7 linked regions of the Homo sapiens genome follow. The gene in region 1 interacts genetically with each later gene. Each region holds a gene or a part of one and is shown in the gene's direction. Other genes may lie near its edges. The genes, in order: GBF1, CNOT9, HNRNPU, SEC31A, YBX1, ATP2B1 and PRKAA1.

Region 1 (3,500 bases):
AGAGCCAAGTGTCACTAGTGGCAGTGACAGGAGCCTTGGGAGTTGGTGTCTTGTGGGTCATTGAAGGTTACTGTCATCTCCAGCTCTTGCAAGATGATTGGCAATAAAGGGAAATTGATATTCATTCTGGTGCTTTAGTAAGGTTCAAATAGTAAGGTTCAAATAACTGTTTGTACTTTGGATTTCTTTTTTTTTTTTTTTTTTTTTTTTTCAGACGGAGTCTCTCTCTGTTGCCTAGGCTGGAGTGCAGTGGCATGATCTCAGCTCACTGCAACCTCCACCTACCGGGTTCAAGCAATTCTTCTGCCTCAGGCTCCCAAGTAGCTGGGACTACAGGCGTGTGCCACCATGCCTGGCTAATTTTTTGTATTTTTAGTAGAGACGGGGTTTCACCGTGTTAGCCAGGGTGGTCTTGATCTCCTGACCTCGTGATCTGCCCACCTTGGCCTCCCAAAGTGCTGGGATTACAGTCGTGAGCCACCATGTCTGGCCTGTACTTTGGGTTTCTTAACACAAAGAAAACCTAACCCTTTCTGGCCGGGCGCAGTGGCTCACGCCTGTAATCCCAGCACTTTGGGAGATCGAGGTGGGCAGATCACCTGAGGTCAGGAGTTTGAGACCAGCCTGGCTAACACGATGAAACCCCGTCTCTACTAAAAATACAAAAATTAGCTGGGCATGGTGGTGCATGCCTGTAATCCCAGCTACTCGGGAGACTGAGGCAGGAGAATCAGTTGAACCTGGGAGGCAGAGGTTGCAGTGAGCTGAGATCACGCCACTGCACTCCAGCCTGGGCAACAGAGTGAAACTCCATCTCGGAAAAAGAAAAAAAAAACCTAACCCTTTCTTTCTCTTATTGCCAGCTTAAATGACTTTGGTTCATGTGTGCCCTTGAGTACCTGGCCGTGACTGGACATACAGAAATATGAGTTGCCTCCACAGTTAGTCCACTTTGTCTTTCAAACCCAGGGCATTAAGCTAGGCAACCAAAGAAGCTAAGCTAGGCTAAAAACAAGAGGCTGGCTATCAACAAATGTCAGGGATGGATATAAAACTGGAGAGAAGAATTACCTAGTTTCTTTCTTCTACTTTTCCCCCAATCCTAAGTTAGAGAAGAGGAACTGTTTTATGTATCTTGAGCACTCAGGAAAGGAGTAAAAAAGAGCTCGTAAGCCAATTCAATTAGACATGAAGATGGGGGAAGCTAAGGCCATTATGATCTAGCCTTAGTTCTGTAATCACTAAGAACCACATCCTAGGAGCTTTTTAGCTGACCAACTGTGGGTGGGCTATGGTGGACTCCAGGCTGGCCTTGTCTAATTTAGAGGCAAAGTAGCTTCTATACCTCTAGTTTTTCTCATGCAGCTGCTAATCACTGGCACAGAGCAGTTCAATCAGAAACCAAAGAAGGGGATTCAGTTTCTGCAAGAGAAAGGCCTCCTCACCATCCCAATGGACAACACAGAGGTTGCTCAGTGGCTCCGAGAGAACCCTCGGCTGGACAAGAAGATGATTGGAGAGTTTGTGAGTGACCGCAAAAACATTGACCTGTTGGAGAGCTTTGTGAGGTGAGGAAGCTGTAAGAAATGTGGGATATAGCCAGGTATGGTGGCTCATGCCTGTAATCCTGACACTTTGGGAGGCTGAGGCAGGCAGATCACTCGAGCTCAGGAGTTCAAGACCAGCCTGGGCAACATGGTGAAACCCTGTCTCTACAAAAAATACAAAAATTAGCTGGGCATGGTGGCATGTGCCTGTAGTCCCAGCTGTTCAGGAGGCTGAGGCAGGAAGATCACTTGAGTCTGGGAGTTCGAGGCTGCAGTGAGCTGTGATCATGCCACTGTGATAGAGTGAGATAGAGTGAGATAGAGTGAGATCATGCCACTGTGATAGAGCTGTGATAGAGTGAGACCTTGGCTCAAAAAAAAAAAAGGTGGGACATGGTTAGTGATCAGTTTAAAGGGACAGAACATCCCTACCTCAAAGCGGTCTCTATAAATTTCTTCTGGAGACCCTAGCCAATGTTCTTCCTCTACCCATCATTTATATCTATTGGACCTGAAAGGGACTCCAACGAGATAGTTTGGGGAGCCCCCTCCATTCTGCATGGAGTCCATTCCAAAGGGGTAGAGCAGGGTTCCAGGGGGTGAGGGTTCTAGGCAAGAGTCCGTGGATGTGAAAAGTATTAAGGCTAGGGGTTGTGTTAGGGATGAACAGGAGATACTGCCCCTTTACTAGAGACCTCAGCCTCCTCTCTTCCAGTAAGAGTAGGTTAGGAGGACAGTGACTAAAAGAGCCTGACATGTGCAGCTTACACATTTTCAGCCTCTTCTTCCTTTCTTTCCCTATAGCACCTTCAGTTTTCAGGGTCTGCGACTGGACGAAGCCCTCCGCCTCTACCTGGAAGCCTTCCGTTTGCCTGGGGAAGCACCAGTCATCCAGAGGTTGCTGGAGGCATTCACAGAGCGTTGGATGGTGAGTTTGAGTGTCAGGGGCTGAGCCCAGGATCCAAGGTCAGTTTGACTGAGGGCTGAAGAATCCAGCTGCTGTCTCTTTTTTTTTTTTTTTTTTTTGAGACAGAGTCTCGCTCTGTCACCCAGGCTGGAGTGCAGTAGCGCAGTCTCAGCACACTGCAACCTCCACCCCCCGGGTTCAAGCAATTCTCCTGCCTTAGCCTCCTGAGTAGCTGGGATTTCAGGCACCTGCCACCAAGCCTGGCTAATTTTTGTATTTTTAGTAGAGATGGGTTTTGCCATGTTGGTCAGGCTGGTCTCGAACTCCTGATCTCGGGTGATCCGCCCACCTCGGCCTCCCTGAGTGCTGGGATTACAAGCGTGAACCACCGCACCCAGCCTGCTGTCTCTTAAAAAGTCAGAGAGCAAAATTAGTGACCTTTCCACAAAGAGATCAGCTTCTGTTAAGGAGTTGGCAAGAGACTGGCCACTTTCTGGATGGTACCTCTCCTCTGTACTAGCACTGACCAGTGGGTTGGTAGTGAGGGTTTAATTGGCCAGAGAAGGGCATTGACACAGGCGGGATCTTTGCTTTTTCAGAATTGTAATGGCTCCCCATTTGCCAATAGCGATGCCTGCTTTTCCCTGGCCTATGCTGTCATCATGCTTAATACTGACCAGCACAACCACAATGTTCGTAAACAGAATGCACCCATGACCCTGGAGGTAAGCTTGGGTCCCAGTCAAGGCAAAGAAGACCCAGCACAGCTTGGGAGGTAGCAGGAAGGACATAGGATTTCCAGTGGGCATGATGGATGGGGTTCTGTCCAAGGGAATCAGGAAGGGCTGGCCAACCTAGAAAAGGGACTGGGGTGGGGAAGTGGGTTTTTTCGCTTACCTTTTCCTAAGTCCTATTTACTGAAAACCCAGGAGTTCCTTAGGTGGGGCTTCAGTGTTGACACAAGGGGAAAAAACTTACTGGCCTGTCTCTAGGAGTTTCGCAAAAATCTGAAAGGTGTGAATGGAGGCAAGGACTTTGAGCAAGAC
Region 2 (3,500 bases), on another chromosome or scaffold:
ACAAACATATTTGATGACTATAGAGAATTATAAAATATTCAAATTTGGGGGGAATATTGTGATTCTTTAGCATAATAATGAAAGCATGCCCTATTAAGTATGTATTTCCTACATGAGTAAGTAATGAATGGTTCTCAAAGGGATGTAGTTAGAGAATATACTGAAGAATCATTAAGAGGGAGAGCTTTTCCAAATTACAGGTTTTCTGCTCAGTTGAGGGGGGATGTCAGAATCACTGGGGAGGGACCAGTATTGGGAAGGCATAATTTTTTTTCCTCTCAAAAACTATTATATGCATATGGTTTTTTAAAAAAAGTTTATGCAAAAGGTTTTAGTGTAAACAATGAAAAGTAAGTCTCCCTGTAAATCCCCAACCTTAGAGGTAACTACAGTTAACAGTTCTTTATGTGTCCTTCTAGAAATGTTATATGTAAATGTGTAAGAATGTATATGTATTTTTTATTTTTATATGTGTGTATATTAATGGAAACATTTTATATGCTCTTCTGTAACCCTTTTATTGTTTTTACTTAGTATCAATATACAGTATATAGAGAGCTGCTTCTTTTTTTAAAGGACTACATAGTATCACATTATAAAGCTGCACCAATATTTAACCAGTCTCTTAGTGAGAGATACTTGTTTGTTTTCTGCATTTTTGTTTTTGAGACGGAGTCTCACACTGTCACCCAGGCTGGAGTGCAGTGGCGCGATCTCGGCTCACTGCAACCTCCGCCTCCTGGGTTCACACCATTCTCCTGCCTCAGCCTCCAGAGTAGCTGGGACTACAGGCGCCTGCCACCACGCCCAGCTAATTTTTTGTATTTTTAGTAGAGACACCAGTTTCACCGTGTTAGCCAGGATGGTCTCAATCTCCTGACTTCATGATCCACCTGCCTTGGCCTCCCAAAGTGCTGGGATTACAGGCATGAGCCACCACGCCTGGCCCAGTTTTCTGCATTTATTTATTTATTTATTTATTTGTTTGTTTGTTTATTGAGACAGAGTCTCACTCTGTCGCCCAAGCTGGAGTGCAATGGTGCAATCTCAGCTCACTATAACTTCCACCTCCCATGCTCAAGCGATTCTAGTGCCTCAGCCTCCTGAGTAGCTGGGACTACAGGCATGCACCACCACACCTGGCTTTTTTTTTTTTTTTTTGCTCTGTCGCCCAGGCTGGAGTGCAGTGGCGCTATCTCGGGTCACTGCAACCTCCACCTCCCAAGTTCAAGCAATTCTCCTGTCTCAGCCTCCTGAGTAGCTGGGATTACAGGCGCCCATCACCACACCCAGCTAAATTTTGTATTTTTAGTAGAGACGGGGTTTCGCCATGTTGGCCAGGCTGGTCTCAAACTCCTGACCTCAAGTGACCCACCCAACATGGCCTCCCACAGCGCTGGGATTACAGGGGTGTGCCACCGCGCCCGGCCACTTTTCTGCTTTTAAAACAGTGCAACAGTAAACATCCTGGTATGTCTTTAGCACAGCCCAATTATACCTACAGGATAAATTCCTAAACATGGAATTATCAAAGGGTATGTGTGCATTTTAGATTTTCATCAGTAACTACCAAAGAGATTGAATAGTTGACATCAAATGTATGTATTTAGAAACGCTCCCCTGGTATTCATGAAAAATATATTTCCTCTAAAACTCTGTTGCAGGGTAAGACTTGGTTTGACTCTAATAAACTGATATTTACTTTCTTGTCTTCATCTGAAGCCTGTGCCTACTACACTGGCACAAGTGGATAGAGAAAAGATCTATCAGTGGATCAATGAGCTGTCCAGTCCTGAGACTAGGGAAAATGCTTTGCTGGAGCTAAGTAAGAAGCGAGAATCTGTTCCTGACCTTGCACCCATGCTGTGGCATTCATTTGGTACTATTGCAGCACTTTTACAGGTGGGTTCATGTCCATGATTGGCAGTTCAGTTCTTTTCATTACACTTGTATATTTCTTTACCTTTGCCCAAATGATTTGAAGACTTTAGGAGGATGATTCTTTAAAAAACTGCATTTGTAAGAATCTGTTTTAGAAAGGTCTGAGGTATTTGTTAAAATGCAGATTCTTGGATCCTTACCCAAGAGATTCAATTTAGTCAGTCTGAGGTGGGCCCTATAATCTATATTTTAATAAGCACTTTCACCTCCCCCAGGTGATTGTGATGCAAGTGATCTAAGAACTACGCTTTGACGAACACCGCTTTAGGAGTACTGTAAGATAAATCTACATGACAGGGGGAGGAAGGTGGAAAGTAGAGTATAAGGACCACAAGGTACAATATATTCTATGGAAAAGAAATGGGTTTTTGGGTTTTTTTGTTTGTTTTTCTTTTTTTTTTTTTTTTGAGACGGAATCTCGCTCTGTCGCCCAGACTAGAGTGCAATGGTGCAATCCCGGCTCACTGCAACCTCTGCCTCCCGGGTTGAAGTGGTTCTCCTGCCTCAGCCTCCTGAGTAGCTGGGATTATAGGCCTGCATCACCATGCCTGGCTTTTTTTTTTTTAATTTTTAGTAGATACGGAGTTTCACCATGTTGGTCAGGCTGATCTTGAACTCCTGACCTCGTGATCCACCCACCTTGGCCTCCCAAAATGTTGAGATTACAGGCATGAGCCACCATGCCTGGCCTGGAAAGGAAATGTTGAAGGTATAACAGCTGTAGTATTAAAGGTGGGTACACTTGTACATTAAAGAATAGATAACTGAAGTTCAGTTCAAACCAGAATGGTCACTGGTGGCTAATTAACTGATATGGTACAATAACAATACCAAAATACCTAGGTAGTGGCATGATCATCCATTAAAGTATTGCCCCAAATTCCTAACAATTAGATTAACTTTTCAACTCTTAAGTAAATTCACATTCCATCTCTATTGCATTTAGCCAAGAAACTGATCTTTGTTATGGGAACGTTTTTCTATGTAAAAGTTTTACAAATAATGTAAATGGAAAATTGTAGCCAGGTGCAGTGGGTCATGCTTGTAATCCCAGCAGTTTGGCAGACTGAGTTAGGAGGATTGCTTGAGCCCAGGAGTTTGAGACCAACCTGGGCAACATGGCGAAACACCATTTCTACAAAAAATACAAAAATTAGCCAGGCTTGGTGGTACACTCCTGTAATCCCAGCTACTTGGGAAGCTGAAGTAGGAGGATCAATTGAGCCCAGGAGGTGGAGGCTGCAGTGAGCCATGATCATGCCACTGCACTCTGCCTGGATGACAGAGTGAGACCCTGTCTCAAAAAAAAAGAAAAAAAATGTAAATGGAATTGTATTGAGTAAATCATTACTTTTTGACAGATAGTGCATATATTCACTGCTGTTTATACATATCCCCACCCATTGATTCATGTCCTTACCATGTTACTACCTAACCAAATTCAAACTTCTTTATGAGTCACCGTGGTTGACTTAACACTTTCTGGCCAGTGATCTCATCACTGTAACTTAAAGCAGGATGCTAGCAAAATTATAAAAATTTGAGTATCCCTCAACTGA
Region 3 (3,500 bases), on another chromosome or scaffold:
CCAAAGGGGCCTGAAGAGAAGAAAGATTGTGAAGTAAGGGATTTTTTTTTTTTTAACTGTGGCATTTGAATATTGCTTGCCTGGCACAAAATGACATTTAGAAGAACTAGATGATTAGTCTGTTTCATTTACTTTGTGCTGTGCATATTGCTCTTAAGTAATTGTTTCCCCCTTATGTTGACTGTTAATCTTTCCATAAACAAATTTTTGTCCGTTAGTGTAAGGGCTATGAAAACTTAGATATTTAAATTGGCCTTAACAATATTTAAAGAATTATTAGGTGGTGTCTACTGACAGTGAAATGACATTTCTTTTCTTTTCACTAGGTTGTGATGATGATTGGCTTGCCAGGAGCTGGAAAAACTACCTGGGTTACTAAACATGCAGCAGAAAATCCAGGGAAATATAACATTCTTGGCACAAATACTATTATGGATAAGATGATGGTAAGTAAAATGTTTAGGGCCTGATCTCAGTGTTTAAAATAGACTGGGAGAGGCTGGGCATGGTGGTTCACGCCTGTAATCTCAGCATTTTGAGAGGCTGAGGTGGATGGATCACCTGAGGTCAGGAGTTTGAGACCCACCTGGCCAACATGGCGAAGCCCCGTTCCTACTAAAAATTTAAAAATTAGCTGGGTGTGGTAGTGGGTTCCTGTAATCCCAGCTGCTCGGGAGGTTGAGGCAGGGACAATTACTTGAACCTGGGAGGCAGAGGTTGCAGTGAGTTGAGATCGTGCCATTGTACTCCAGTCTGGGCGACAGAGCAACACTCCGTCTCAGAAAAAAAAAAAAAAGAAAAGAAAAATTATAGACCGGGAGGTATTCTAGGTAAACTTTTTGTCTTTGTCTCTATCCATTTTGTTAGTATCTTAAAGAGATGGGAGGAAAGGCAAGATTAAGTTGGTTCTTTCAACTCTGAGGGTAAACTGCCTTCCACTGGCTAGGCTTCTGTTTTTTTCCGTAGTGTTTTTGAGCTCTTAACATCTAGCAGCTAAAAAGAATTGAGTAAGTGTAAGGTCTTGTTACATAGTTTAAGTGACCCTGTTTTTGTAGCAATAATGGACAAAGGTAATATTTAAATTATAAAATGTTGCCTGCTTTACATATAGATATGAGTTGAATTTTAAAAAGCATAACTTATTAAAATTCACAAGTTCAAGGGGAAATTTTAACTTTTGAATATAGGTGGCAGGTTTTAAGAAGCAAATGGCAGATACTGGAAAACTGAACACACTGTTGCAGAGAGCCCCCCAGTGTCTTGGGAAATTTATTGAGATTGCTGCCCGAAAGAAGCGAAATTTTATTCTGGATCAGGTACGCTGTAGCTTTGAAATTGAAAAATATTAACTGATAATTTAGATAGATTGGTGTAGAATTAATGTTTAGGGTTGTAAACATAAATTTCTTTTTTTAAAGACAAATGTGTCTGCTGCTGCCCAGAGGAGAAAAATGTGCCTGTTTGCAGGCTTCCAGCGAAAAGCTGTTGTAGTTTGCCCAAAAGATGAAGACTATAAGCAAAGAACACAGAAGAAAGCAGAAGTAGAGGGGAAAGACCTACCAGAACATGCGGTCCTCAAAATGAAAGGCATGGAATTTTAATTCTGTTACTGTGTGAAATCTTCTTTTTAAAAGAATGTTTTTCCTACATATTCTGCTTGTGTAACTATGTTAAATCTATTAGGACTTAGGCCTCCTGAAAGTTAACATTTTTTCCAGCAATACTGCTTCAGGAATTAAAATTGCAGTTGTTACATATGCATATATGTTTGGTCTGTTTTTATTTTTAGGAAAATATGTTACTAAACCTCAAGAATTGTCAGCTTTAGGATTGTGAGGATTCGTGGTGGGTTTCTAAATTAATAATATGACTTTGTTTCCTGCAGGAAACTTTACCCTCCCAGAGGTAGCTGAGTGCTTTGATGAAATAACCTATGTTGAACTTCAGAAGGAAGAAGCCCAAAAACTCTTGGAGCAATATAAGGAAGAAAGCAAAAAGGCTCTTCCACCAGAAAAGAAACAGAACACTGGCTCAAAGAAAAGCAATAAAAATAAGAGTGGCAAGAACCAGTTTAACAGAGGTGGTGGCCATAGAGGACGTGGAGGATTCAATATGCGTGGTGGAAATTTCAGAGGAGGAGGCAAGTTAATTTTGAGTGTTCTGTATTTAGTTCAGGATCGAAACAAGTGATAATTTTATAGTTTGGATGTAGCTGAAGTTTCTTCCTCATTAATGGTATACTGTCACAGTAACTAAAGTATTCATGTGATTTGATATTAAATACACCTAGGTTATGTTAATGGTTAGAATTAAACATTTCTTTTGTCTTTAAACAATTATTTTTGGAGAAAAAGGAACAATCTAGAGGAATCCTAAGTCTTCTGTATAAGTAGGGTACAATATACAATGAAACTAAAACAGCTCTTGTCTTTTAGCCCCTGGGAATCGTGGCGGATATAATAGGAGGGGCAACATGCCACAGAGAGGTGGTGGCGGTGGAGGAAGTGGTGGAATCGGCTATCCATACCCTCGTGCCCCTGTTTTTCCTGGCCGTGGTAGTTACTCAAACAGAGGGAACTACAACAGAGGTGGAATGCCCAACAGAGGGAACTACAACCAGGTAATGATTCAAGATCCCTGGAAGCATGATTGATAACTGTAGCTTAGTCTGGAAAGGTGTGAGCTTTATGTTGGGGTGTCTTAGTAATCCGTAAGGAACATGATAGGCATTGACATAAGGAAAATTGAACTAGTAATGGTGAAATGAGTCTACTTACTTTTGAGTTTTTTCAGGTGTACTAAACAAGTCAGATGCATTTCTCATAATGAATAAAAAATTAAAACATAAGAAACCAGCAGAGGGTATCCAGAATTTGTGTATTGCTTGCTACCTAAGATTAGGGGCTAGCAACCTGTCCATTTCTGCTCCTCTCTCTCACCCCCACAAACCTAACAAGCAATTGGGCTCAGAGCTCTTAGAGAGTATTTCCTTTTTGTAGAACTTCAGAGGACGAGGAAACAATCGTGGCTACAAAAATCAATCTCAGGGCTACAACCAGTGGCAGCAGGGTGTAAGTAATTTCTTATGTGCTTTATGTACATTAATTGTATTTTGAGTTCCTAAGATTTATCAGTCTTGAAAAAGATCTTGTTCAGGGATTGAAGTGTTTATAAGTGTTAATAGGGTAAAGTGTGAATCGTCTTGCAGTAGTAGCCATAATCTACCTTTTGAAGGCAAAATAGGTTGAAGATTGCTATAAGTTAAATTTTTTTAATAAAGTAATATTATTTAATATATACAGTTCTTTTACTGCTAGCTTTAATTGTGTAAACTAACAAAGTCATGATGTTTCGTTTTGTAATGTGTATTGATAATTATGGGATATTAAAACTAAATCTGGTTTGGTAGAAATCAGAGGTATGACAGGTATAAATTTGTTTCCAGCAAATTACTCTGAATTAGATTCATTGTCATTTCCTAAAAACAGTTTGAGTGGCTT
Region 4 (3,500 bases), on another chromosome or scaffold:
TCATCCTCTCCTCATCCCAGTCCCCTCCACCCTCCACCCTTGATAGATGATTGATCTCTGTTCTAATAATCTGTTCAAGTTTCTTTTTTTTTTTTTTTTTTTTTTGAGACGGAGTCTTGCACTGTCGCCTGGGCCTGGAGTGCAGTGGCGTGATCTCGGCTCACTGCAACCTCCACCTCCTGGGTTCAAGCAATTCTCCTGCCTCAGCCTTCCGACTAGCTGGGATTACAGGCGCCTGCCACTACGCCCAGCAAATTTTTTGTATTTTTAGTAGAGACAGGGTTTCACCATGTTGACCAGGCTGGTCTCAAACTCCTGACCTCATGATTTGCCTGCCTTGGTCTCCCAAAGTGCTGGGATTACAGGCGTGAGCCACCACGCCCGGCCATAATCTGTTCAAGTTTCTTAGTTGTAGTTGCCTCCATTTCTTTATAAAATGAAGCCATTCAACATTTTAAGTATAAGGTTTAGTGCAATGAGATAGGGCAAGTTCTTAGGTTAAAAGTTAATGTTCAAATATAACATCTATTTTTTCTTTCCTGCAGCAAACCAAGAGGAAGCTAGATGATGCCAGCAAACGTTTGGAGTTTCTGTATGATAAACTTAGGGAACAGACAGTAAGTTTTGGAGGAAAAGGATTTATGATAATCATTTATTCCTAGTTGCTAGTAAAACAGTTGTCTTATCAGCACTCCCATTTAGTATGCATGGGGGCAAAATTGTCATGACATTTAGAGAATGGGCATGGCTGTGTTGAATCATAAATTCCACTCACTGGGGTTAAGGGGATACGGGTGTGTGTGTGTGTGTTTGTGTGGGTGTGTTGAGAGAGACATTTTAACCCTCTCATAACAAGAGTATAAATACAAACTGGCCTGTGTTGGCCATAAGGTAGCTGACCTTCTGCTGTTCCTTTTATATGGCCCAGTTACAAGAAATCAAAGAGTATGCAGATACTCTGTTTTCCAGGGACTAAATCTATAATCTTTATCATAGTCTAAGACTCTTGACCCTTTTCTTTTAGGATAGCCATTATACAAAAGCAAAGCCAAATGTAGCCACAAGATGAATAGGGTAATGTGCTGTAACTATGAAGATAGCCAGGAGTAAGAAGTCAGTTCACTACGTTTGTTCTCTTGTCCCCACCTCACCATTCTTTTCTAAAATTGTCTTGTTTTATTAATGAAAGCACTAGGAAAGGAGAAGAAAAAAAGAAGTGGGACTTTCTTTTTATTTTTTCCATTTCAGCATTCCTCTAACCCATTCCCCACACTCAGTTCCATCAGATGAAAATAACCATTTCTCTCATGAGAACCAAACTAAAGAAAGTTGATATAACAGTGGAAGTAGTGTGGTCCTTGGACTGATCCAAAATAAAGTCTTCTCGGTGGGCACAGTGGGATATGCCTGTAATCCCAGCTACTGAGGAGGCTGATGCGGGAGGATCACTGGAGCCCAGGAGTTTGAGACCAGCCTGGGCAACATAGCAAGACCGCATTTCCAAAAAAAAAAAAAAAAAACAGAAGATACAATTAGCGTATACATCTAGATGAGTATATATTAAAACATTTTTTAAAAATGAGATCAAAATAGGCCAGGCATGGTGGCTCACGCCTGTAATCCCAGCACTTTGGGAGGCTGAGGCGGGCAGATCACCTGAGGTCAGGAGTTTGAGACCAGCCTGGCCAACATGGCAAAACCCCGTCTCTACTAAAAATACAAAAATTAGCTGGGCATGGTGGCACACGGCTGTAGTCCTAGCTACTCAGGAGGCTGAGGCAGGAGAATCGCTTGAACCCGGGAGGCGGAGGTTGCAGTGAGTCGAGATCGCACCACTGTACTCCAGCCTGGGTGACAGAGTGAGACTCCATCTCAAAAAAAAAAAATCCAAATAAAGTCTTCTGTAAAGTATGGACACCTATGCCAAGTAATGACATAGTAAAAAACTACAGGTTTTATAGTTTTAAGAGATGACAGGATTATAAAAAGCAGGTAAGAATTAGTAAATTTGGGCCCTTCCTTTGAGATATTATGATTAAGAATCTTTAATCTCCTTTTTGTGCATAGGAGAATTTTTTAAAGGTCTGAAGCTCTCTTAAGTGGAGAGAGAAATTAGCATTTCAGTTTGGAGAGGAAATCGGGCTGCTTTTCTGTAAGAAAATACCTGGCTTATACATGTATAATTCATAAATAACTTATTTATGTAAATCATTTTGTTGTGGTTGTACTTGATAACTGTTGCTTGGTTCAAGAAACTTTCTAGAAATGCTAAATGGTTTATATATTTTTATAATGTTTGTTTCAAATTCCACTTAAATATCTGGGTTTAATGTTTATGGAGGATCTCATGGGAAGTTATCCCTTAATTTAATTCTTTCTCTTGGTTCACTTTTGTTTCAGCTTTCACCAACAATCACCAGTGGTTTACACAACATTGCAAGGAGCATTGAAACTCGAAACTACTCAGAAGGATTGACCATGCATACCCACATAGTTAGCACCAGCAACTTCAGTGAGACCTCTGCTTTCATGCCAGTTCTCAAAGTTGTTCTCACCCAGGCCAATAAGCTGGGTGTCTAAAAGGACAGCTTCTCTTCCACTCAATATTGCCATTTTTCCAAAGAAACATGTTAAAAAAAAAAATTATAAGACATGGACTAGTCCTCATTAGCATGTTTGCATAGCAACCAGTCAAGAGCATTTACACTATTTCTGCTGATATACTCACCTTAGAACTGCTCAGAACCCTGGTGCTTTATTTTTGTTTTAATCTTTTGTTGCCAGTGATGATTTTCCTATTCTGCAAATAGTGTATTTCCTGGATTACACATAGTATGGTTTCCTGAAGTATTCTGATAAATGTGTTTTTTAAAACCTCAATATACTTTTTAGAAAAGGAGCATCTGGTTATGCATAAAGCAGAGCTAAAACTAAATTTCTTTCATGTCCTCCCTACTTCCTCAGTGTCAATCAGATTAAAGTGTGTAATCCTATTTTATGTGTGTATAGTCTTTTTTGAAACAGCTGCTTAAAATTTAGTTTATTTTTTGTGTCTTAGGATTCCTGAGTAAATAACTACATCTACAAACTGCTACATGGGTTTTAGCAGATATTAATAAAAATGGGATCACTGGCTTTAACTATATAGGAAAAGACTGGACATTTTTGTTCTGTAGAATGCATTGAGCTTTTTTCTATTTGTAAATGTTTCAATATTCTGTTTGAGTTTTAAGACTAAATTGTGTCCATTTTATAGCTAGAAATTTTTTCACCTATTTTGTTTAAATTACCTATAGCTGTGCCAGGCATGGTGGCTCACGCTTGTAATCCCAGCACTTTGAGAGGCCGAAGCAGGCAGAGGTCGGGAGTTCGAGACCAGACTGGCCAACATGGAGAAACCCTGTCTCTACTAAAAGTACAGAATTAGCCGGGCGTGGTGGCGCATGCCTATAATCCCAGCTACTTGGGTGGCTGAGGCAGGAGAATTGCTTGAACCCGGG
Region 5 (3,500 bases), on another chromosome or scaffold:
CCTTAAGTCGCTTTTACAGTTTACCTGTTCTGTTTTTTTAATTATCCTGTTCCCATCAATTAAAAATGTTCTTATAATAATCCAAGCTATAATTTACAGGTCAGATTTAAAGTTAATTTTATGTGGATCCTTTGATGCATATGTTGCCCCCAGTTCAGCAAGAAGCTAACAGTCAGTAAGCCAGTTTGTCCAGTTCATTGTAACCTTTGTTCCCTTTGTCATTAAACGCTAGAGCTACTACTGAGCTTTTTCTCACTCTGACCTGACGGAGTAAAGAGGGTGAGGCAGGCCACTGCAGGCCTGGAAATCCGTTTCCTTCTCCAGTGGTGATTCTTGCTCCTCGTGTTATCACCTTAATCCCAATATCCAGGCTAAAAAGTGAGATTATTCTCTACCCCCTCGCTTCTGACATCCAGTCATCCACAAAGTTTCTCATTTTGCCTCAAAAAGAGATCTCAAATGTCTTTTTATACATGGCTCCGTGGTCTAAACCTTCATCAGTCCTTGTCTGGACTTGTGGAGTAGCTTTTATAACTGGGCTTTTCTTACATTCAAACATACCTTATCACCCAAAGGTCACAGTTCCCATTAGGTTTCACTCTTTGCGTTATACATTCTGTTGGTGGGGAGGGGGGTTCTCATTTTTATGATCTCAAGGAAAGTTGGTAGTTGGGAGATGCAGGATAAGGTGAGAATGTAACTACTACTTCTGTTGGTAACCATGCTCTAGAGGTAAGAGGAGGGTGTGCTAGAACAGTTAATGTTTAATAGGATAAGGAGGGGCAGAATATATTTTGCTAGTCATTGCTACCCTCTTAATTATGGCTCAGTAGGTCACACTTTAATTTCTTAGACTTTTTTTTTTTTTTGCCTATCTTACGGGTAATGAGGCTACAACTGTTTGCAACTGCTGAAGTCTTGAAAGCAGAGAGCATGGTGGCTTGTGTTTTTTGATTTTTGCCAAATTTCCTGGTACCTAATTGGCAGCCAGAGAGTCTCTGGGAAAATTAATCTTTGACAACATGAGATTTATTTCATTTTCTAACTTGTTCAACTTGGTTCTGTCTTGCAGGAATGACACCAAGGAAGATGTATTTGTACACCAGGTGAGTGCTTGTGTAGATATTTGCACTTCTGATTCAAGGATTGTAAGAAGAAAAGGTTAGATATGTTCTCAGCTTTTGTTCCTTATAAAAGGTTAAGTCCAACCACCAGTTTATTTACTTACGACAGGAGTAGTAGCATGCTTAAAAATGTATACGTGGAAATGTGTTAGAGTTGACTTAATTATCCTAGACATTTCAAATTGGAATTTTGTCAACAGCTGTGGCTTTCTCAAATGTTGAGTCAAACTCACTGCATTAAATATTTATACCTAATTTCAGATGAACAGATTATTCCATGATTCTAAAGTTGAACAAATAATGTTGCTATAAATACACAGAAACTTTGGCAAGAAGTTTTCAAAGGCTTTTAGGTGTACCTGTAGGGACAAATCTCCATAATCAAGGGTAAATAAGACAGACCTGCAAAACATAGTAATTGAAGTGAGTACTTGAAAAGTAGCATAAAGAGCCTTCTGCTTACTTTAAATCACTTTGAATGGGTATTGGGTTTTTTTTTTTTTTAAACCTTTGGAGAGTTTTGGCTGGCTTGGAAAATGAAAAAATTTCACTAGTTTAAGGTTAAGTGGGGGGAAGTGTGACAAGGTTGGCAGCTGCTCATTAAATAATTTTTAGATTGGCTTCCAGTGATTTGGGAAGAGAAAACTGTTAACATAGGATGAGTACTGATGAGTACTGCATAGTGAACTTTCTCCCTAAGTATCATTTAGGGAAAATGTTTGCACATTCAGGAATTAAGATTATTACTAATGTAAACCACTGCCAAGTGTATGTTAATACTTCAAATTTAGATATGCTGTAGGCTACATTGAATGTACTTATCCTCACAGATACGAAATGAGTAGGAAAAAATATGTTTGTGCTATCAGTTTTCTCACTAAGGCTTTTGAAATATTGTCAACTTGTATTAAAATTAGAGACCATAACTACTTTTTTGTACTATAATCCAGAAATCAAAAGACCTAAAAGTTAATATCCATACTCACATTTAATTAGATACTAGCTTTTATGGCAGCATGTTTCATAGGAAGGGCTGTCATAGGTTGGTGCTTTGTAGCTCACTGAAGTGTCCTACACAGTATTTGATGACAAGGAGGAAGCTATATCAATTTCTAGTACACCCAAACCCAATCAGGTAGTTCAGGGTCAAATGTAATTATGGAATCATTTAAATTCTAAATGTAAATAAATACAGGACTACTTCAGACAAAATGTTGTTTTAAAGTAGATGTTTTATAAAATTGGTATTCTTGTTTGGAAGAACACAGCTCAACTGTTCCTTACTCCCCTTCTGCATGTTCAAAAGAATGTGTAGACTTAGGAACAAGAGACAGCAAAGTTTCTCGGTCTTGTTGCCTGTTGGCAACCCTTAAGGGTTGGGGTTGGGGCAGGGGTGGAGATGTTGATAAAAATAAAGAGTTGGGATTTTAATTATCCATAATTCTGCTATCCCCTATGACTGCAGGTAATTGATAGTTGGCTATATCTGAAAGGTATGAAAACTATGTGACAGTTTAGATGACAGATGAGATCAATTATTTGACTCAACTCACCCAGTTGTACTGATTCACAAGGTGCCACCAATATGCTTTCATTTTTTTGGAAGTGGTTTCAACATGTAGTTGTTTCTTGGGACTTTGGCTGCTCAGGTCTTAGTGGTGTATCAGGGAGACTGCAGTTCTGGGCAGCTTCACTTAATTGGCCTCAGATTCGTTGATTGTCCTGTCTCCTCTGCAATGGAAATGCATGAGTGATCCTGTAATGGATATAGCTGAGATTTGGAGTGAACATGGGATTTGGAGACCCAATACCTGGGTTTAGAAAGTCTCCTTACTAACTGTGTGACCTTGGGCAAGTCACCTAACTTTAAAGCCTGTTACATTATCTGTGTAATGGGATTAACAATACTTTCACATGTCCTGTCTCATAATGAGATTGAATAGATAGTAAGTGAAAGAATGTTGCAAAAAAATTTCATAGAAACGTGAGATGTTACTCTTCCTCCCTTCTCTTAACAGTCTGGAGAAAGTAGAAGCAACAAGTCTCTAATACAAGATTTATTGAATTCTGGGGAGGTGATAACTAACAATTCCATGCAGTCAGATCATATAAAGAATGACATAGTTAATACACATGAATTGCATTTCCACTGATGTATTATCAGATTGGAAGGGATTTTGGTTGACATTTGTAATTGAGTTTGATACGGTAACACAGGGGCAAAGTTGGTTTGGTCAGCTTTGAAGCATGCAAAACCAAACTCGCCTGTCATCTAAACTGACGCAGTGTGGGGCCACCTTCTCCTATTAAGTGCAGTCCTCAGGGGATAGATGGATATCCTCATTTGTTAAAAGTTATATATAATGCTTTTGCAAA
Region 6 (3,145 bases), on another chromosome or scaffold:
GTTTTATTATTTATGAAGTGGTTAGAAAAAAAAAATCTCTAATATTGTTCAACAAATTCAGATAGGAAAAATCTTCTCAGAATTGAAGTTTTGCTAAGAAGGGATTTAATCTTTCTTTGCCTGCCACCGGTGTATGTGTGTGATTGTGTGTGCACATATACTTGTTGCCCTCACCTTTACACTCTGCCCCTCTTAGAGCTTCACTAACTCTCAAATCTCTAACTTAAGTTTACACTTTTCTTCTGAGCTCTAGATATTTTCCAAATTTAACATGTTTAAAAAGTACATTTATTTCCCCCCGATTCTTCACTGCTCACTTTTATACCGACTGATTACAAAGAAAAACAGATGGAAAACACACACATACACAGAAAGCTTAACTGTTGTTCTATCTTCAGTAGCAGCAGCACCAGCAACCTTATCAAATAAGCAACATCTTCAGGGTTGTCTTGAACAGTTCTCATCACCCATCAAGTTTGCTGGCTGATCCTCTAATTTGTATTCTCCTCCGTGCCTACGGGCTGCTGATACCAACAAATTTTTTTTTAGAAAGTTATCTTTTTGCATTTTAAGCTTTACAGTTTGTTATTAGGACAGTCAGGATACTTGCTGAATGTTCACATGTATAAAATGTGAATTTTAAGACTTCACAATAAAACACTGAATGAATTACTATAACGTTATATTTAGCAAACATTGTTTACATTCCATATGTAGAACACTTTACATCTTAGTAAAGGGGAAGAGGAACAAGAGCAATAAAAGAAGTTGAAAAATATTTGCTGCTATTCATCAGTCAAATTAAGGAACTGAAGTACAAGCAATCAAATAGAATGGAATTATAAAAGATGGTAAAGCTGCAAGACATTAATAGAATAGATGCTTGCTGCTCCAAGTGTGGATCATGGACCAGCAGCTTTAGCATCACCTTGGAGGTTGTTAGAAATGCAGGACTTTAGGCCCCTGCTGAATCAGAATCTGCATTTTAACAAGATCCCCAACTAATTTGTATGCACATTAAAGTTCGAGAAGCCCTGGCCTCGATACTTGTGACCTAACATTGTTTTAAGTTTGTAGTGTGCTAACGAATTTAATCTCCCACAACAACCCCGTAAGGCAAGTACCATTGCTATTTCCCATTTTATAGTTGAAGAAACCTGTTTGACCGAGGTTCCTCAGGTAGTAAGTGGCAGAGCTGGAATTTACACCCAGACATTTTGCTTTTGTATTTCTCAGTTGACTATGCTGTACTCTCTATATAAAGGGCTAAGTGAATATGGACTAAAAGCAGCTTACAAATAGGGCTTGGCAAATAAGGAAAGACAACTTGAAGGTGAGATGTGGGTGCATGGCCCTAAACTCTACATTACATTTTTTTAAACACATTCACATGTTCATTTGAAGAAATGTATTATTCATTATTGCTGTCTAAAGAGATGAATTTGGTGACCGCATCTTTTTTCTAGAATGTCAAAGTGTTATTTATTTCTCTTAACAATGAGTAAATGATGTCTTTATTACTAAACAGGATTTATTAGAATCAAAGCAAAAGCAAACACTGTATTTGAATTGATACATAGTAAATGCTCAACTAGTTGGATTTTGTCCTTTTTTTTCTAAATCTGAATGACGCTTGAGTTAATAGCACTTAATGTCAGTGTGTGCACTGATGTTTTTAAGTTTGATTGCCCACTAATCTTTTTCATTTATACAGCAGACTGAGAGGAAGATGAATTGTTGAGCTATCTGCTTAGGGGTGAAAATACTAGAAAACTTTTAACACTTTGTGTCTTCTTGGGAAATTTTTCACAGAAGAATCCCAGAGGATTTGTTTTTGTTTTTGATCTATTCTTTCCAGATAACTGTAGTAATTGATTTAAGTTTTAATCTGTTACAGAGAAAAACACTAAAACTTTATAGACAAATGATAGACAAATGGCATATACTCAAATATTTATAGCTGTTTAATGGCATTTTATAGACATTTATTTGGGTTTTGTTCTTATTTTTGTTTTTAATTAAGGGAGTAGTGGGGTAGATGTGAGTTCATTGTGGCATTCAGCTTATATTTGCTTGGCTTTTTCATGGTCGGTGACACCCTAATTCCTAGCATGATAAATAGTAACCCTTTGTGCTTGATTTTGTTTAACTTATTTGAGTTGTTTTCAAAATACATTCTTTTTAATTTAAAAAATCAGCTAAGCTTGTGTATGGTTAAGTTTTTGTTTTGTTTTGTGTTTGATTTGTTCTTTTAGGGAAAAAATCCTATAAAATGGCTATTAAATTTTTAGCCAATGACAATGAGATTTTCTTAATATTACTTTGAATTCTTTACCTCTTAATTCTTAGAGTATGTGGTTTTGTTGTTCTGTAGTGTCTTACTAAAATATTCATTTTTTTACAGTGTATTGCAAGTTCCACTGCATTACATGCAAATATGATTCACTCATACCTAGCTGTTTGTGGATTCAAACTCATAAATGAACCATTTTTAAGTTGTTAATAGTGTACTGACATATTTCTGTATTTTCTGATATTTACAGATTCGAGTGGTGAATGCATTTCGTAGTTCTTTATATGAAGGGTTAGAAAAACCGGAATCAAGAAGTTCGATTCACAACTTTATGACACATCCTGAGTTTAGGATAGAAGATTCAGAGCCTCATATCCCCCTTATTGATGACACTGATGCCGAAGATGATGCTCCTACAAAACGTAACTCCAGTCCTCCACCCTCTCCCAACAAAAATAACAATGCTGTTGACAGTGGAATTCACCTTACAATAGAAATGAACAAGTCTGCTACCTCTTCATCCCCAGGAAGCCCACTACATAGTTTGGAAACATCACTCTGATTGTAAGCTGAATGTTAACACACTAGCTGCATTGTAAAGAAACAAATTGAAACTGGGTCTTTTCACATATTGTGATGGACAAGCTAGTATTCTTGTCTTTGGACTTCAACAGAAGACACACTTGTACGAATGTAGATTTATTTTTTTAAAAAAAAAAAAGCAAAGCTTTCTGCCAGACTGAGGGTGCTTTTTGGGGGGTGGGAGAAATGAACTGACAGATAAACAGTAACTCAGCGTAAGTGACCTGTGGATCATCAGTAGTACCCAAGCATGGTCCTGAACAGTGTATT
Region 7 (3,500 bases), on another chromosome or scaffold:
TTACTTCTGAGGACAGATGAAGGATAAGGGAATCTGGGAGGAGTCATGCAGGGCTTGAGTTGTATTTGTAATGTTTTATTGCTTAAGCTGATGGTGGCTCATGGGTATTTGGAATGCCCTTGGTGTGCTTGAAATGTTTGTTTGCTTTCTTAAATTACGATCTATAGCTTTTAAAGCCCACCCTTCCCCAGGATTAAGCTATTTCCTTAACACGTTTTTATTCTTTCAATTTTAAAGTGGGAATGAAATGGTTAGGTGTCTAGAATATCTTTAGTAGATATTTCTATCTTTGCTGCTTCTCTGTCCTATTAAAATCCTCTGTTTCAAAGTATGATCTTGTTTCCCTTCAGGATTATATATCTAATTAGAAGAGCATTTGTTACAATGTTATGCAGTTAGACAAAGTTCCCTTTAGATAGCAATAGCATGGTTGTTAGCTAATATTTAGTTGACTAATCTGCTATTCTTGTGAGGGGGACATTGTGAATGCTGGTAATATTTGCTCTGAGTAATGTGCAAGTCTTCCGTGGCCAAAATATCTGTCTTCCGTTTCATTTAAAAGCAAAACCTTAGCACTATTCTAAAAACTGACAGTCTGAAGAATAAAGTTTGAATTTTGAAAAAGGGGGGAATCCCTTAGTAGTGCATATGCCTGACAGAGTCCATTTACTACATTCATTGATTGACTATGGAACAGCATTTAGTTTGGCTACAACTGAGTTTACTCACTGGGGAGAATATTTAGCCTGGTTTTGAGAAAACAGTTTAGTTTCTGATACCATGCCAAGCCCTTTGTCCCTCTCACTGCACAGTGATGGTGGGGAGAGTGGATAGGTCAAAAGACTTGGGAGTCGGAAGACCTGTCCCAACTTGATCACAATAGCTTTACTTCCACAACTTACAGAATCTCTTAGAGCCTCAGTTTCTTTATCTGTAAAAGACAATACCTCCATCATAGGTTTATGCTCAAATGTGATAATGTGAGTGTCTCCTAAGCTATTAGATGCCATATTTTAAAAAGTATTATGCTACTGAAGGCCGGGTGTGGTGGCTCACGCCTGTAATCCCAGCACTTTTGGGAGGCTAAGGCGGGCAGATCACGAGCTCAAGATATTGAGACCATCCTGGCCAACATGGTGAAACCCCATCTCTACTAAAAATACAAAAATCAGCTGGGTGTGGTGGCATGCGCCTGTTGTCCCAGCTACTCGGGAGGCTGAGGCAGGAGAATTGCTTGAACCCCGGAGGCAGAGGTTGCAGTGAGCCGAGATTGTGCCACTGCACTCCAGCCTGGCGACAGAGCGAGGCTCCATCTCAACAACAACAACAACAACAAAAAAAAAAAAAAAGAAAGAGTTGACTCCTGATAGACTATGAAGGCTGGGATACAAATTCAAAAAGCGGAAAACCACACGAGCTGGAACACTATAGGCTGGGAGCAAAAAGCCCTATCCTGCTAAATAACTCCCACTGCTGTCACTGTGTGAGGGTATAAGGAGCAGTTGATACTCATAAGTTAACATTTGTTTGGTTCCCAGTCTTCATGTACATGTGTTCCATTTAAGAAGTCATGATCATGTGTAGTACAATTAGAAAACCTGTTTTCAAAAAATATTACTTCTGTTAACTTGTTAATTTTAATGGTGAATATCATAGTTTAGAAAATCCACCCTCCTTTTCTTGTCAGGGACTGAGTGTGTGGTCCTGCTCCTGTTATGTATGGAGGCAAAGGGAAAGGGCTCCGGCCCCCTCAAAATCATGTCTTTGGTGCCAGCCGGTTCTGTTCTCAGTCACCTGGATACTGAACTTTCCTGAGCAGGGCAGAACTGAGATCCAGTGGGCTTCTCCCCAGGATGCTTACGCTTTTTCATTTGATTTCAGGTCTCCTCTTTCGCTTCCTATTGCAACCAATGAAGGCCATTCCTACCATAAGTAAATAAAAAAGAAAATCTATCTTTAATAAATAACAATTGTATATATTTATGGGGCACAATGTGATGTTTTGATACATGTATACATTCTGCACTGATCAAATCAGGCCAAGTAGTATATCCATCTCCTCAAATATTTATCATTTCTTTGTGGTGAGAACATTTAAAGTTCCCTTTTTTAACTCTTTTGAAAAATTAATATATTTACTGTAATCATGATGCTATGCAATACAACACCAGGATCCTGTTCCTCCTGACTGTAATTTTATGTAGCCATTGACCAATATCTTCCTTTTCCCCTCCAGCCCCACTTACCCCAGCTACTGGTAATCACCATTCTACTCTCTACTTCTGTGAGTTTGACTTTTTTAGATTCCAAATATAAGTGAGTCTCAGACACCTCTGACATACTGATTTCAATTCCTTTGGATATATACTCAGTAATGGGATTGCTGGATCATATAGTAATTCTATTTTTAGTTTTGTGAGGAACCTCTACACTGTTTTACAAAATGGCTGTATTTATAGTTTCACCAGCAGTGTATAAGTGTTCCATTTCTCTGTGACCTTGCTAACACTTATCTTTCACCTTTTTGATAATAGCCAGTCTAACAGGTGTGAGGTGATACCTTATTGTGGCTTTAATTTGCATTTCTCTTATGATTAGAGATGTTCAGCATTCTTTCATCTATCTGTTGGCCATTTGTTTGTCTTTTTTTTTATTTTTATTTTTGAGACAGTGTCTCACTCTGTTGCCCAGGCTGGAGTGCAGTGGCATGATCATGGCTCACTGCAGCCTTGACCTCCTGGGCTCAAGCGATCCTCCCACCTCTGCCTCCCAAGTAGCTGGGACTACAGGCATACACCACCACGCCTGGCTAATTTATGTATGTTTTATAGAGACAAGGTCTCACTGTGTTGCTTAGACTGGTCTTGTATTCTTGGGCTCAAGTGATCCACCCGCGTCGGCCTCCCAAAGTGCTGAGATTACAGGCATGAGCCACCATGCCTGGCCGGATATTAGCTATATATCTGATGCATGATTTGTAAATACGTTTTCTCAGTCTTTGGGTTGTCTCTTCACTCTATTTGTTTTTGCTTGTTTGTTTGTTTTTTTGAGATGCAGTCTCCCTCTGTCACCCAGGCTGGAGTGCAATGGCGTGATCTTGGCTCACTGCAGCGTCCGCCTCCCGGGTTCAAGCGATTCTTTTGCCTCAGCCTCATGAGTAGCTGGGACTACAGGTGTGCACCACTACGCTCAGCTAATTTTGTATTTTTAGTAGAGATAGGGCTTCACCATGTTGGTCAGGCTGGTCTCGAACTCCTGACCTTGTGATCCGCCTGCCTCGGCCTGCCAAAGTGTTGGGATTACGCGTCTGGCCTGTTTGTTTGTTTTTTGCTGTTCAGAAGCTTTTTAGTTTGATGTCATCCCATTTGTTTATTATTGCTTTTGTTGCCTGTGCATTAGGGGATCATATACAAGAAATGATTGCCCAAACCTGTGTCATGGAGCTTCTCGCCTAAGTTTTCTTCTAGTAGATTTGTAATTTCAGGTCCTAAATTTAATCC

The links.
Region 2: changes in GBF1 (region 1) and CNOT9 together harm fitness more than expected from each alone (negative genetic interaction), as found in Homo sapiens cells (one study listed by BioGRID).
Region 3: changes in GBF1 (region 1) and HNRNPU together harm fitness less than expected from each alone (positive genetic interaction), as found in Homo sapiens cells (one study listed by BioGRID).
Region 4: changes in GBF1 (region 1) and SEC31A together harm fitness less than expected from each alone (positive genetic interaction), as found in Homo sapiens cells (one study listed by BioGRID).
Region 5: changes in GBF1 (region 1) and YBX1 together harm fitness more than expected from each alone (negative genetic interaction), as found in Homo sapiens cells (one study listed by BioGRID).
Region 6: changes in GBF1 (region 1) and ATP2B1 together harm fitness more than expected from each alone (negative genetic interaction), as found in Homo sapiens cells (one study listed by BioGRID).
Region 7: changes in GBF1 (region 1) and PRKAA1 together harm fitness more than expected from each alone (negative genetic interaction), as found in Homo sapiens cells (one study listed by BioGRID).

Annotation. Positions count from the first base shown.
Region 1 is NC_000010.11:102,364,032-102,367,531, forward strand, and holds part of GBF1 (Golgi-specific brefeldin A-resistance guanine nucleotide exchange factor 1), read left to right. Parts: intron 1-1,365; coding exon 1,366-1,568; intron 1,569-2,351; coding exon 2,352-2,475; intron 2,476-3,053; coding exon 3,054-3,179; intron 3,180-3,446; coding exon 3,447-3,500. UniProt on the Homo sapiens protein: Guanine-nucleotide exchange factor (GEF) for members of the Arf family of small GTPases involved in trafficking in the early secretory pathway; its GEF activity initiates the coating of nascent vesicles via the localized generation of activated ARFs through replacement of GDP with GTP.
Region 2 is NC_000002.12:218,578,839-218,582,338, forward strand, and holds part of CNOT9 (CCR4-NOT transcription complex subunit 9), read left to right. Parts: intron 1-1,722; coding exon 1,723-1,902; intron 1,903-2,171; exon of another isoform or gene 2,172-2,231; coding exon of another isoform or gene 2,232-2,276; intron 2,277-3,500. UniProt on the Homo sapiens protein: Component of the CCR4-NOT complex which is one of the major cellular mRNA deadenylases and is linked to various cellular processes including bulk mRNA degradation, miRNA-mediated repression, translational repression during translational initiation and general transcription regulation.
Region 3 is NC_000001.11:244,854,544-244,858,043, reverse strand, and holds part of HNRNPU (heterogeneous nuclear ribonucleoprotein U), read left to right. Parts: coding exon 1-33; intron 34-326; coding exon 327-446; intron 447-1,187; coding exon 1,188-1,316; intron 1,317-1,418; coding exon 1,419-1,587; intron 1,588-1,885; coding exon 1,886-2,140; intron 2,141-2,435; coding exon 2,436-2,620; intron 2,621-2,999; coding exon 3,000-3,071; intron 3,072-3,500. UniProt on the Homo sapiens protein: DNA- and RNA-binding protein involved in several cellular processes such as nuclear chromatin organization, telomere-length regulation, transcription, mRNA alternative splicing and stability, Xist-mediated transcriptional silencing and mitotic cell progression.
Region 4 is NC_000004.12:82,818,154-82,821,653, reverse strand, and holds the end of SEC31A (protein transport protein Sec31A), read left to right. Parts: intron 1-545; coding exon 546-617; intron 618-2,400; coding exon 2,401-2,580; 3' UTR 2,581-3,145; downstream 3,146-3,500. UniProt on the Homo sapiens protein: Component of the coat protein complex II (COPII) which promotes the formation of transport vesicles from the endoplasmic reticulum (ER).
Region 5 is NC_000001.11:42,692,418-42,695,917, forward strand, and holds part of YBX1 (Y-box-binding protein 1), read left to right. Parts: intron 1-1,072; coding exon 1,073-1,106; intron 1,107-3,500. UniProt on the Homo sapiens protein: DNA- and RNA-binding protein involved in various processes, such as translational repression, RNA stabilization, mRNA splicing, DNA repair and transcription regulation.
Region 6 is NC_000012.12:89,590,694-89,593,838, reverse strand, and holds part of ATP2B1 (plasma membrane calcium-transporting ATPase 1), read left to right. Parts: intron 1-2,543; coding exon 2,544-2,855; 3' UTR 2,856-3,145. UniProt on the Homo sapiens protein: Catalyzes the hydrolysis of ATP coupled with the transport of calcium from the cytoplasm to the extracellular space thereby maintaining intracellular calcium homeostasis.
Region 7 is NC_000005.10:40,788,375-40,791,874, reverse strand, and holds part of PRKAA1 (5'-AMP-activated protein kinase catalytic subunit alpha-1), read left to right. Parts: intron 1-1,670; exon of another isoform or gene 1,671-1,804; intron 1,805-1,841; exon of another isoform or gene 1,842-1,923; intron 1,924-3,500. UniProt on the Homo sapiens protein: Catalytic subunit of AMP-activated protein kinase (AMPK), an energy sensor protein kinase that plays a key role in regulating cellular energy metabolism.